Homo sapiens: one gene and its partner. The protein of the gene in region 1 purifies or fractionates together with the protein of each later gene. This does not show direct contact. Each region holds a gene or a part of one and is shown on either strand. Other genes may lie near its edges.

Region 1 (3,500 bases):
TTTTCTGAGCTCCACCGGAAGAGTGTGACATGTAAACCCTCCCTACTTTCTAGAAAAAGGAACTAGGCAGGGCACAGTGGCTCACACCTGTCGTCCCAGCACTCTGGGAGGCTAAGGTGGGACAATCGCTTGAGCCCAGACCAGCCTGGACGACATTGCAAGACCCCAGCTCTACAAAAATTAAAAATTAGCTGGGCATGGTGGTGCATGCCTGTAGTTCTTGGCTACTTGGGAAGCTGAGGCAGGAGGATCACTTGAGCCTGGGAGATGGAGGCTGCAGTGAACCATGATCGCTCCAGCCTGGGCGACAGAGTGAGACTCTGTCTCCGAAAAGAAATAAATGGAGCTGACTTTTGAACTGTGGTTGTTTCAGGCACCAGTGCCTGAAACCACTGGGGCTGGTGGGCTGCCAAAGGCCACTGAGAGAGCACAGAAAGAGGTACAGGAAGGGTGTGGGGGTAGGCAGAGGGGATGTGGGGAAGAGGGAGGTGCTGCCCCAGCCCAGAGAGACTCTTCTGGGAAGGAGGAAGGAAGGGGAGGCACAGCCAGCCAGAGAGGTCAGGGTGGTCCCACCGTCTGTGCTTGGGGAAGCTGAGTTTCAGCTCAGCTTGGCCTCAGGCCCAGTGGGAGTCAGACCCCGACTTCCACCCCAGGCAGCCAGACCACAGCGATGGGGCTGGGCACTCACTGCCTCCGCCCCCAGCGGCAGCGTGTCTGTGCTAACTTTGGTTCCCTCCGCAGGGCCCAGCCCCCTCCCAGGGCACCGCTGATGGTGCTGATGACTCCAGGTAAAGCCCCTCCACTCCTGGTCTAGGCCCTGTCCACTTCCAGCCCAAGATGGCCCACAGTGGGTTCCTACTCAAGCCAGGCCTGTCCTGGGGGTGAAGAATGAGGGGCTGGGCCTCCAGCTCTACAGAGGGGCTGGGTTCCCTGAGTCATGCCCATGGTTGGGGGTGGTTAGGACCAGAGCAAGGGGAACCGCGATGATGGCAGTAGCAGCAGCAGTGGCCCTGACAGTGAGGAAGGCCAGTGCGTGACCAGTGGGGCCTCTGGGACTTGCAGCTGAGTTCCGAGGACAGGGAAGATGTTGGGCTGACCCTGGCTGGAGGCCAAAAAGACCTGGGGCAGGGCCCTCCTCCGACACCTACCACGGGACACGGCTGGTCCAGGCCTGGTGGTCCCGGCTCGCCCTTCTGGCCCTTCACTCCTTTCCGGCCGGGGACCCCTCGTTCTCCCTGTGCAGGAGGGGAGATGGTGGTATTGGTCATGGCTGCCAGGCTTAGGAACCTCCAACATCTCTCCGAGAGAAGCGCGTGGGGCCAGCCTCCCCCTGCCTCCGCCCACCTGCCCGGCCTGGGTTCTCTCTACCTGCTTCACCTGAGCCTCCACTCCCACCTGCCTCCTTCCCCCTCTCCTCCTGCCCCAGCTCCCGTCCAGCTGCCCTCACCTTCTCTCCACGCTCGCTCCGATCACCTTTCTCTCCTCGGGGTCCAGGGAAACCCTGACAAAAGGATTAGATGCTAAACCCGAAAATGAGGCTGGAGGTTTGCCCCTCTGTTACCGGCTCATCTCTGTTCCTCTCCCATCCACACGCCCACTTTCCCCCCTGCATATTCGTGGCACACGCTGGCCTAGCCCTAGCTGTAGGTGATACACTGCTGGGTACAAGGCTGATGTAGGAAGAGCATGCATTTACGATGCCAGCTGGGCTTGCTCCAAAGTAGTCGCTGGACACCAACACTCAGGCAGAGCTGCTGGCAAGGGGCTGTCTCTCACATCACAGACGCGGCTGGCACTGGTCTAGGCTTGGCTGGGGACAGAGACCCCGGAAACCATGGAAGTTATGTCACTGTCTGATGGGATGAGAAATGGTGATCTCTGTTCTGTGCCCTTGGCTCAACTTCCTGCACACCCATCTGTCCATTCATCTATCTGTCCGTCCACCCAACCAAGGTGGCTTAACATCCACTAGGAACCGGGCTGTTGGCTGGACACTGGGGACACAGAATTGGATTCATTGTGGCCGGGCATGGTGGCTCATGCCTGTAATCCCAGCACTTTGGGAGGTCGAGGTGGGCAGATCACCTGAGGTCAGGAGTTTGAGACCCACCCTGGCCAACATGGCGAAACCCTAAAAAACACAAAAATTAGCCGAGTATGGTGATGCGCGCCTGTAATCCCAGCTACTTGGGAGACTGAGGCAGGAGAATTGCCTGAACCTGAGAGGTGGAGGTTGCAGTGAGCCGAGATCGCACCACTGCACTCTGGCCTGGGCGACAGAGCGGGACTCTGTCTCAAAAAACAAACAAAGAGGCCAGGCATGGTGGCTCCCGCCTGTAATCCTAGCACTTTGGGAAGCCAAGGCAGGCAGATTGCTTGAGCTCAGGAGTTCAAGACCAGCCTGGGCAACACAGTGAAACCCCATCTCTCCTAAAATACAAAAAATTAGCCGTCCTAGCAGCGTGCACCTGTAGTCCCAGCTACTTGGGAGGTTGAGGCAGGAGAATCGCTTGAACCCGGGAGACAGAAGTTGCAGTGAGCCGAGATCATGCCACTGCACTCCAGCCTGGGTGGACAGAGTGAGACTCCATCTCCAAAAAAAAAAAAAAAAAGAAACAATTTTAAAAAGAGAATTGGATTCGACATGGTCCCTTGTTCACGTGTAACGGGGCAGGCAAGAGAGTGCTGATGACAGTCAATGCTCAGTGACAGAGGTGTGAAATAGGGGTGGTGGGATTCTGGAGGGAAGGGCTGTTCTATCACAGGTGGGGGTCAAGGGGAGTTTCTCAGCACGGTCCTCATTATAGTTGGGCCTTCTGGGGTTGAGGAGGAGCCTGGCATTTGCCAGGTAGAGCAGGTGGGCATGGCTTTGAGATGCCACCCTGAGAACCAGGCCTCCTGGAAGGCAGCTGTGGCCACATTCATGGTGGCATGGAGTCTCCTTAGCTCCACCCTCAACTGGGCCCAGAGCCTGCAGCTGGTTCAGCATTGTCCTCTCCCATCCCTTCCCATTGATGGAACCCAGCACCCCCGTCAGAAACCCAAGCTACAGCTCTTCCTTTCCCTCGTCCACAGTTGCTCTCCCAGGTAATGTTCTTTTTTTTGAGACGGAGTCTCACTCTGTTGCCCAGGCTGGAGCACAGTGGCACGATCTCAGCTCATTGCAAGCTCCGCCTCCTGGGCTCATGCCATCCTCCCGCCTCAGTCTCCTGAGTAGCTGGGACTACAGGCACCCGCCACCATGCCTGGCTAATTTTTTTTTTTTTTTTGTATATTTAGTAGAGACAGGGTTTCACCGTGTTAGCCAGGATGGTCTCTATCTCTTGACCTCGTGATCCACCCGCCTCGGCTTCCCAAAGTGCTGGGATTACAGGTGTGAGCCACCGTGCCTGGCCGGTAATGTTCTCTTTTTAAAGTCTAGGGTGGGCACCAGAGTCCTTGCAGCCCTGCATCTGGGCCTATGTCCCTCAAAATAGCTACCTGATTTTCCTGAGAACAAC
Region 2 (3,500 bases), on another chromosome or scaffold:
TATAATCCCAGCACTTTGGGAGGCCGAGGCAGCTGGATCACCTGAGGTCAGGACTTTAGAGACCAGCCTGGCCAACATGGCGAAACCCCGTCTCTACTAAAATTACAAAAATTAGCCAGGCATGATGGCGGGGGCCTGTAATCCCAGCTACCCAGGAGGCTGAGGCAGAAGAATTGCTTGAACCCAGGAGGAGGAGGCTGCAGTGAGCCGAGATTGTGCCACTGCACTCCAACCTGGGCAACAGAGACTCTGTCTCAAAAAACAAGAAAAAAGAAAATCAGGAGAATATAGAAAAGTATGAAGGCTGAAATAACATTTGGGGTTGATCATAGAAAACTGTGTAATGGGTTCAATGTATATTATTTAGGGGATGGACGCCCCAAAATCTCTGACTTCACCACTTCACAATCTATGCATGTAACAGAATTACACTTGTGCTCCATAAGTTTATACAAATTAAAAAATAATAGTAATATTCAACCTATAAGTCTGTTTTTTTTTTTTTTTTTTTTTTTTTGAGACAGAGTCTCATACTGTGGCCCAGGTTGGAGTGCAGTGGCGTGATCTTGGCTCGAGAAAAAAATAAAAAGACTCAACTGTTCCCTTCCCCATGAGACAATGTCCCCACAGGAGGAGGAAGTGCAAGTCAGGCCTCAGCAATTCAATGTGGCCACCACCCCCCAGCCCCTGACCCCTTCCTCCTGCTTCTTGGAAGTGACCCAAAGGTTTGGCCATTACATATGATGGTGATAAAAACAGACGTGACACGGCCAGGCACGGTGGCCCATGCCTGTAATCCCAGCACTTTGGGAGGCCGAGGCAGGAAGATCACTTGAGCCCAGGGGTTGGAGACCAGCCTGGGCAACATAGCAAGACCCCGTCTCTACAAAAATATTTTTTATTTGTTATTTTTTAAAAATATTTATTTATGTATTTATTTATGAGATGGAGTCTCACTGTGTCGCCCAGTGACTGGAGTGCAGTGGCACGATCTCGGCTCACTGCAACCTCTGCCTCCTAGGTTCAAGAAATCCTCCTGCCTCAGCCTCCCAGGTAGCCGGGATTACAGGCACCTGCCACCACGCCCGGCTAATTTTTGTATTTTTAGTAGAGATGGAGTCTCACCATATTGACCAGGCTGGTCTCGACCTCCTGACCTCAAGTGATCCACCCGCCTTGGCCTCCTAAAGTGCTGGGATTATAGGCATGAGCCACCATGCCTGGCTTCCACAAAAATAAAAATAAAAAATTAGCCGGGCGTGGTGGTGGGTGCCTGTGGTCCCAGCTACTCAGGAGGCTGTGGCACGGGAATCGCTTGAACCCAGGAGGCAGAGGTTGCAGTGAGCCGATATTGCGGCACTTCACTCCAGCCTGGGCACCAGAGTGAGTCTCTGTCTCAAAAAAATAAAAAAATAAAAATGGACTTGACCCAAGTGTCCAAACACAGGGGACAACTGGGGACAGAAAAGCCCATTCATTCCTAGTGCTGAGGATCAAATGAATCCCAGCTCCTCCTCCACTGACCAACCATATCACCTCAAGCAACTCATCTCCCCTCTCTAAGCCTCAGTTTACCCTTCTGCAAAACAACATTAAGGATGGTCCTGGCATCCTGCTGCTCCGCCTTCCCTGGGGATACCCAGACCTGCCTGTGATCCATATCCGGCCGGCTGAGAAACTTACCAGGATGTAATCAGCCCACATGTCTCGAGCTGATTTCAGGGCTGCCTGGCGCAACTTCATGACATGCTCGTAGCGTGAGTCAGACCAGTGTTTCGGGCCTTCCTCGTCCGGGTAGGACCTATGGGGAGGCAGCTGTGATGTGGACATCACAAGGCACTATCAAAGCCCAGCGAGGGCCTGAGCTGCCTTCGGGGTACTCAGAGAGAGCTTCCTGGAGGAGGGGACGTGTAAGCTGATCTGAGGGATGGGAAAAAGTAAACGACGAGGAAAGAGAAGTGGGGAGAATGTTCCTGGCCGGAGGTACAGCCTGTGCAAAGGCCTGGAGGGAAGAAAGCCCGAGGCACACTGGAGGGAAGGAAGGAAGGAAGCTCAGTGGGGTCCAGTGCAGTGGCCCACGCCTGCGATCCCAGCACTTTGGGAGGCAGAGGTGGGAGGATCGCTTGAGGCCAGCACTTTGAGACCAGCCTGGGCAACACAGTGAGACCCTATCTCTACAAAAAATACAAAAACATTAGCTAGGCATGGTTACATGTGCCTGTAGTCCCAGCTACTCAGGAGGCTGAGGCGGGAGGATGGCTTGAGCCCAGGAGTTAAAGGCTGCAGTAAGCTGTGTTCACTCCACTGCACTCCAGCCTGGGTGAGGGAGTGAGACCCTGTCTCAAAAAAAAAACAAAAACCCAGAAAGGAACTGGGTGGGGGCAGGGAGTCCATGCTGCCCAGGGCTTTAGGGAGTAGATAAACAGCAAAGCCAGTGCTGGGACCAAGACTGAGTCAGTGAGCCAGGGAACAAAGCAGTGGGCGTCCCCAGAAGAAAAAGGGAGTGAAAGAATTCTAGGTACAGGGAACGGCTTGGGCAAAGGTCTGAGAAGAGGATTATGGCCTATTTGTAAAGCTGAGGGAGGCTCAGAGTAGCTTAATGCTGCCTGGCTGGGCTGGAGGCAGGGACTGAGGGCCTGTAATTGTTCTGGGGCAATGGGGAGCCATAGAGGGTGTGTGAGCAGAGGCAAAGCCCAATCAGACTAGGAGCAGGGGAAAGATGCTCACCTGGGCTCCTCTGCTGGCCGCCACTCCACGGAATGGTACAAACTCTTCACGGCCACCAGCCACTCCCGCAGCACAGTTGACGTGTTATCCATGTTGTGGTCCGTAGCCACCCTGCAGGGAGAGGGGACAGGCAGCGTACTTGGGGAGACTGAGGCAGGACCAGGCAGCAGTGAGGCAAGTCAAGGACCACCATCCCCAACTGGCCTCCCACCAGCTATGTATCCCTGGACAGGACACTTCTCCCTTTCCTTTGTTTTTTTTTGAGACAGAGTCTCGCTCTGTTGCCCAGGCTGGAGTGCAGTGGCGCGATCTCGGCTCACTGCAAGCTCCGCCTCCCGGGTTCACGCCTTCTCCTGTCTCAGCCTCCCAAGTAGCTGGGACTACAGGCGCCCGCCACCACACCCGGCTAATTTTTTTGTATTTTTAGTAGAGACGGGGTTTCACCATGTTGGCCAGGCTGGTCTCGATCTCCTGACCTCGTGATCCGCCCACCTTGGCCTCCCAAAGTGCTGGACTTAACAAGCGTGAGCCACCGCGCCCGGCCCATTTCTCCCTTTCCATGTCAGTTTCCTCATCTGTAACATGGGGGTGGGAACAGGACCCAGTTTACTGGGAAGTGGAAGGATTAAACAAGCTGATTTTGGAAAGACCCATTAGTGATTGGCTGTTTTATTACTGAGCATCTAAGATCTTGCAAACCACATTCACTAACAAATATGTGTCACTTAATTTTTTTTTTCTTTTGAGACAGAGTCTTGCTCTGTCACCCAGGC

Evidence for each region. Proteins that work in one complex are often made in the same cells at the same time.
Region 2: the proteins of COL23A1 (region 1) and COLGALT1 purify together in Homo sapiens (affinity purification with mass spectrometry; one large-scale study listed by BioGRID and IntAct). This does not show direct contact.

Annotation. Positions count from the first base shown.
Region 1 is NC_000005.10:178,240,894-178,244,393, forward strand, and holds part of COL23A1 (collagen alpha-1(XXIII) chain), read right to left. Parts: intron 1,502-3,500; coding exon 1,448-1,501; intron 1,236-1,447; coding exon 1,149-1,235; intron 1-1,148.
Region 2 is NC_000019.10:17,558,649-17,562,148, reverse strand, and holds part of COLGALT1 (procollagen galactosyltransferase 1 precursor), read right to left. Parts: intron 2,839-3,500; coding exon 2,728-2,838; intron 1,802-2,727; coding exon 1,684-1,801; intron 1-1,683. UniProt on the Homo sapiens protein: Beta-galactosyltransferase that transfers beta-galactose to hydroxylysine residues of type I collagen. By acting on collagen glycosylation, facilitates the formation of collagen triple helix. Also involved in the biosynthesis of collagen type IV.